2 separate regions of the Homo sapiens genome follow, and region 1 is linked to region 2. The links come from fine-mapping of genetic effects on gene expression. A gene starts in region 2. The other region holds a variant in brackets. All regions are shown on one strand. Distances are between the middles of the regions. Region 1 overlaps LOC105377276 (a long non-coding RNA gene). Region 2 holds the start of EREG (epiregulin).

The links. PIP is the estimated chance that this variant, and not a neighbour inherited with it, causes the effect. A credible set is the group of variants that fine-mapping cannot tell apart.
Region 1: its variant is the best candidate, but not a certain one, in a credible set for the expression of EREG in whole blood (INTERVAL, PIP 0.84).

Annotation. Positions count from the first base shown.
Region 1 is chr4:74,334,717-74,337,635 of GRCh38, reverse strand. The region is part of intron 1 of LOC105377276 (a long non-coding RNA gene); the gene reads left to right. Among named protein-coding and RNA genes, the nearest start is that of EPGN, 28 kb to the right of the region's middle. The variant A/G (reference allele first, on the strand shown) is at 1,680.
Region 2 is chr4:74,363,536-74,366,454 of GRCh38, reverse strand. EREG (epiregulin) reads right to left here and starts at 1,310. Exons shown (of 5, transcript NM_001432.3): 1 at 1,080-1,310. The coding sequence starts at 1,146. LOC105377276 (a long non-coding RNA gene) reads left to right here and starts at 1,114. Exons shown (of 3, transcript NR_188415.1): 1 at 1,114-1,304.

The DNA of each region.
Region 1 (2,919 bases), 29 kb after region 2:
CAGTCTTGCTCTGTTGCCCAGGCTGTGAGTGCAGTGGCACAATCTTGGCTTGGTGCAACCTCCACCTCTTGGACTCAAGAGATTCTCCTGCCTCAGCCACCTGAGTAGCTGGGATTAGAGGCATGCACCACCACGCCTGGCTAATTTTTTGTATTTTTAGTAGAGATGGAGTTTCACCATGTTGGCCAAGCTGTTCTCAAACTCCTGGGGTCGAGTGATCCTCTTGCCTTGGCCTCCCAAAGTGCTGGGATTATAGGCATGAGCCACCATGTCCAGCCGACTATGTGTATCATGTTGAAGATATGAAAGCATATTTTATAAGGATAAGTTCCTAGAACCAAGGTTGCTGACTCAAAGATGTATTGCTTCTTATATTTAAAATGTGATAATGTTTCCATTTCTTTATCAACCCGAGGGCTACACCATTAAACAGAAGTAAAGCATCATTTATATAAAGAAAATTGGTCCTTTGCTTTAGGGATGTCTTGCCAGTATTTTGTTTGGACTTTGATTTTCTTATGATACTTTTTTGACACCTCTAACGTGTTGTGTGGTTGAATTTATTTGTCTTTTATTTTACAATTTCTGTTTCCTTGTCCACACTCAAGAAGGCTTTCACTTAAATATTATAAAAAAAATTCCCTTGCCTTCTCTAGTACTTTCATAGCTTCATTTTTATGTTTAAATACTTGATTCATCTAAAATTTGTTTTAGTGCAAAGAGTAAGTAAGCAGCTTATTTTTTATATGTCTATCTCAATTTCTCAACATCATTTATGGAATGATCTATGTTCTTATGCACTGATCTGTAATGTTATCTTAGTGTTAAGACTCTACTCTATTGCTTCTTATCTTTTGATTCTGTTTTGCTTTATTGATGCAGCCAGTCTGTTTCACAAATTGACCAGGTGTTGTTTTGTTAATGTTGTATAAAATCTCAAGGCTTTCCTTAGAGAGAATTTACATTATCATGATGCTGAGTGTTTCTATGCAAGAGTGGGTATATTTTCCAATAGATTCAAATGCTCTTTTATCTCCCATAATAGCATTTTAACATTTTGTTCATAGGGCTCTTACACATTTCTTATTAAATTTATTGAAAGATATTAAAAATCATTCTGTGATTACTGTTTTCCATTTTATATTCTAATTGGTTATTGATTCTATATAGGAATGCCATTAAATTGTATATATAAATTTTTTTCAGCCATCTTACTGAAATATCTTTCTGATTGTAATAGTAAGAATAGTAGGAATTGTCTTATTTGTTCTGACAGGAGACTTGAGGCAATGTTAATATCCATAAACTAAATACTGGTTAATCAACATGGTGCATCAAACAAGGCAGTACTCTACAACTCTGGAATAAATGACACAGCCTTGAATACACTGGCACTGAAAAATCTACAAATACATAATATTAGGTTAAAAAAGCCCAAAACTAATGTTTCCAGTATGGTATGACAGCCCCTTGTTCAAAGCAGCTGTCACCTAGGAGGTCTCAAAGGCACTAGGCATGCAATATCATTTTCATTGTGCTTGGAGACCACAATGCTCAGGAATCGTAGAAAAGACAAATGATATTATCAAAAGGCACCTCAGAAAACTGTCTAAAGAGATTCATCTCCCCCTGGATTACTCTTCTTTCCATGGCACTAGTATGTGTTAGAAACAGCTTTC[A/G]AAGCTGGGTTTAAGTTCCTTCAAAACGATGTATAGATGGCCTTTTCTCACCAGTGGTTTCTTGCTAAACCAACAAACCCCTGATTTGATTAGACATGTAACTTCTTTGGCCCATTTCCAATAGGAACTGAAACAACTGTCGGAGGACCAATCCCGTGAAGTAGAACCACCTCTATTCAACCCAGGAGACCTAGTACTGGTAAAGGCTCTTCTTTCCTTTTCTCTCTCTGTGGCCTAGATTGGGAGGGGCCTTCAACTGTAATTCTTTCTACTCCTACATCAGTAAAGTTCACTGGAATAGATTCTTGGATTAATTATACTCGAGTAAAGTCTGGGAAACTGATGAAATTACCTCTGTTGACCCAGAAGAGCACCCAAAGCAACAGTGTGAAGAAACAAAACTTAAGTGTCAATAATTAACCTTCAATGGATATCCTCTTTATAATCTCACCTATGCTTGCTGTACTCGCCTTTGTTCTGTTCCTCACCATAAGGCATCTTTGCCAAGACTCCTTATTACTGAATGTCCCTGGGATTATCTACTCTCCTAAACAGCTATCTCTCTTCTAAAGTTTAATTGCCTTCCCCCATACAAGATTTAATTTCCTTCACTGGGGTGAAATATCTGTGGCCACAACATTGTTTTCAGAATGATTAGTCTATTTTACTTCTTATTTCTGTTATCGTTGGCAATAGAGATTTTCCTTTTAGCTCCTCTTTGTATACTACACATATTTGGTCCACGCATATTTAACCTCCTTGTAAAATTTGTTTATTCTCACCTAGAGACCATCAAACTCCAAATGGTCATGCAAATGGAGCCACGGGCAATGGGTCCCATTTCCTGGTCCCATTACCCGGGAAACACTTTGATAGGCCTCTGAGAGATCTGACTGCCGTTTTCCCAAAACAGTGCACCCTGTTAGCATGAAGCAGTTAAGAGCGGTTACTGTTTGTATCCTAACAGCAGTTAGATGTACCTCTTCAGAGGAGGGATTGATAGCAAAAGGAGGCAGACAGATTCCTAGGCAGATAGGGACAGGTCCCCGGTGAAAGCCGACCTTCAAGCCAAAGACAGCCTGAAGCCTGAAAACCCAGCAGACAGTTCTGGATAGCGTCCAAGACCAGAGTGAGAATACCCTCAGCGCATTTTAGCCAGTCAAATGGTGCTTTTTCCACGCCTCCCCATGGACCAGTCAGAATGCACTCTCCTCTTCTGAGCCATTGAAAACCCTGAACT
Region 2 (2,919 bases):
TGTGTTCCTGGACTTAGACTTGTAAGTTTCAATTATGCATAGTATGCATTTCATTAGGTCTCTCAACCCCTGAGATAAGGTGTGCCAAAATAATAATTTAACAGTCACATCCTTCACAGGTAGAGTTAGAGTGTCTGGGGAATCAGCCTCATTCCAACTCCAGGGAGAATATGAGACTGGTGGTAACTTTTATTTTTTTATTAAGATATTCATATACGACTTCAAACTCTTTCAAATTCCTTAAACTGAAGTTTAAGGAATTGGAAAGAAGTAATTTTTTTTTAACAGAAAGGCTATTTAGAAAATTTTTCCCCTTGAACTAAATCATCTCAAATAGGAAGACTGGCATTTAAATACCCTCAGCGATCACAGGCTATGGAGTGCAATTAGCAGCAAGTGCAGAACGCTTGCTCCAGAGGCTGCTTGGGAGGCTGCAGGGAAAAACGCAAGCAGCAGGTGTAGGGGCGAAGGGCGGTGGGGAGCGCCAGGACCTGCCCAGGGCCCTTCTGCTCCAGATACCCTCGACCAGTGTTTTATTTCTCTTGTGTCTGGAGCTCAGCCAACTGGCACTGGCGCATACCAGCTCCTCCGGGAAAGCTAAACCAGGCTAGGTTTTAGAAAACTGAGCGCAAGACAGAGGAGAAAAGCTTTTTCCCCCCTCCAAAAAATTTCTTACGCTAGTTTCTATTCCCCACTCTCCAACAAAAAGGAACAAGACATGAAATGTTAACAGTGCGTTCCAGGCCTTTAGATTTCTAGGACTGGCAACTTTTCAAAAAAAAAAAAAAAGCTTTTTCAACAACTTTTTATTTTGTTTAATAAGGAGATATTTCAATCCATGCATAACATATATGCCAATAATTAATTCACCAATAAAAAGCATTTTAACATCGATCCCCAGTCCCCCCCACCCCAGTCCCACCATAGGGGAAGACAGACTCACAAAACAAGACGTAATTTTAAATAGAGCACACTTGAACCTGGAGACAACTCCGTACTTGTCGAATGACAAATGCACAGGAGCCTTCCTTATTTGTCTCCTCTTTGGGGCGGCCGGAAGCCAGAGGGGGAGAACTTACCCAGGCAGAGCAGCAGCGCAGGGACCCTGCCGGCACAGAGCATCTCCATCCTCCTCCCCGCGGTCATCGGCGATGGGAGCGGGCGCTGGGGCTTGGCGGAGGGCGGCTGCGGAGAGTGCACGGGCAGGGCGGGAGCAGACGGGCTCGCGGCAGTGGCTGGAGAGCGGCTGTCAGCCTAGAAGGGACCCCACGTTGGCTGTGTCCCTCTGACACTGGAAATATCAGGCAAGTGAGCTCAACTGTCTGGTGCTGCGAACTTTATACTAGGGAGCCCCTCCCGGGCCCTAACGGGGTGAGGTCAAGAGTGCCCAGAGTTTCATAATTGGCCCGAGGGAGGAGCGGCAGGAGGACCGTCAGGAAGTCATCCTCCCTCCCTGGAGCACCTGAGAGTAGTGGTTGAGGAATGAAAAAATGTCTTTCCGATTGGCCGGGGACTACTCCCGAAACTTTTCCATCTCCCTCCGGGAGGTGGGGAGCGTGGACCAGATGGCTTGGTTTGCTTTGTGGGGTCACCTGCCCTGTAGTGGGTGGTTTTGGTTGCTCAGGGTGACGGACATAACTTGAATCAGTCTTTTAGCCAAGGCTGGCGTTCCCCATACATGCCTTTGGAGAGCTGTGCGTGTGACTTACTAACCTCAGCCACGAAAACTCCCTTAACTTGAAGTCTGTCAGTGATTCAAGCGCCCTCCTTGCATTGAAACGCCACCGCCCAGAAAAGCCTTTCCCATCTGCGCCTTCCTTCTGAGACCCCTGCTTCCAATGTGGCTCAGGCATTTATTACCTCAAAGTCGAGTCATTGTGAAGAAAATTCCTGTTATTTTTTTTCCTTCTGTCGTATTTGCCATTTGTCAGGTTGCTGCTTTTGATATGACTTCCTACTAAGTAGTGCCTTAATCCTGTCGCTCCCCTGCACAAAACCTTTCAACGACTTCCTATTGCTTTTTGGACAAGGCCTGCCACAAACGTGAAGCCAATCGGTCTTTTCAACCTCAGCTCCCACTATTTCCCCAGGCAAATTGTCTGACCCCAGCCAGGCTGGAAAACTCTAAGCCTTTCCTCACTCCCACTTTCCTGCCTATGCTGATGGAGTCGTACTTTGAGGCAATGGCTACTTTTTAAAGGAATTAGTGAAATCCTGCTCAAATTCATGGTTCTCCTCAAGGGCCTGGGCTTCTTAGGCTTGTGGATCTCTTTTCATTCTGATCTCTTATAGCTTTTGTCGTTTATCTTCTCCCTAGCCTCATAGAATTCTAGACCCGGTACTTTACACCTGGGAAAGCTACTTTGTATTCCTTGACTTTTTTTTTGTTTGTAAGTCCTATGTTCAGCTCTGTACTGTGTAAATTGTCTTCCTTTTCACTGCACTCCTCTATAGGACCTAAGAACTGTGAGTCAATTCAGCAGTACTGTATGTAAATATACATATTTGAATAGAAAATGGAATCTAATGGATGTTAACTCCTTACCTTTTTATTTCTACTTTTTAAAAAATTATTATTACTATTCCTTTTTTTTTTCTGGCTTTTTTCTCTCATACTCTAAGGCCCTTTAATGTCCAGAATGCTCTTGTTAGAAACAAATACTTCGGCCGGGCGCGGTGGCTCACGCCTGTAATCCCAGCACTTTGGGAGGCCGAGACGAGCGGATCACGAGGTCAGGAGATCGAGACCATCCTGGATAACACAGTGAAACCCCGTCTCTACTAAAAATACAAAAATTAGCCGGGCATGGTGGCGCGCGCCTGTAGTCCCAGCTACACGGGAGGCTGAGGCAGGAGAATGGCGTGAACCCGGGAGGCGGAGCTTGCAGTGAGTCGAGATCGCGCCACTGCACTCCAGCC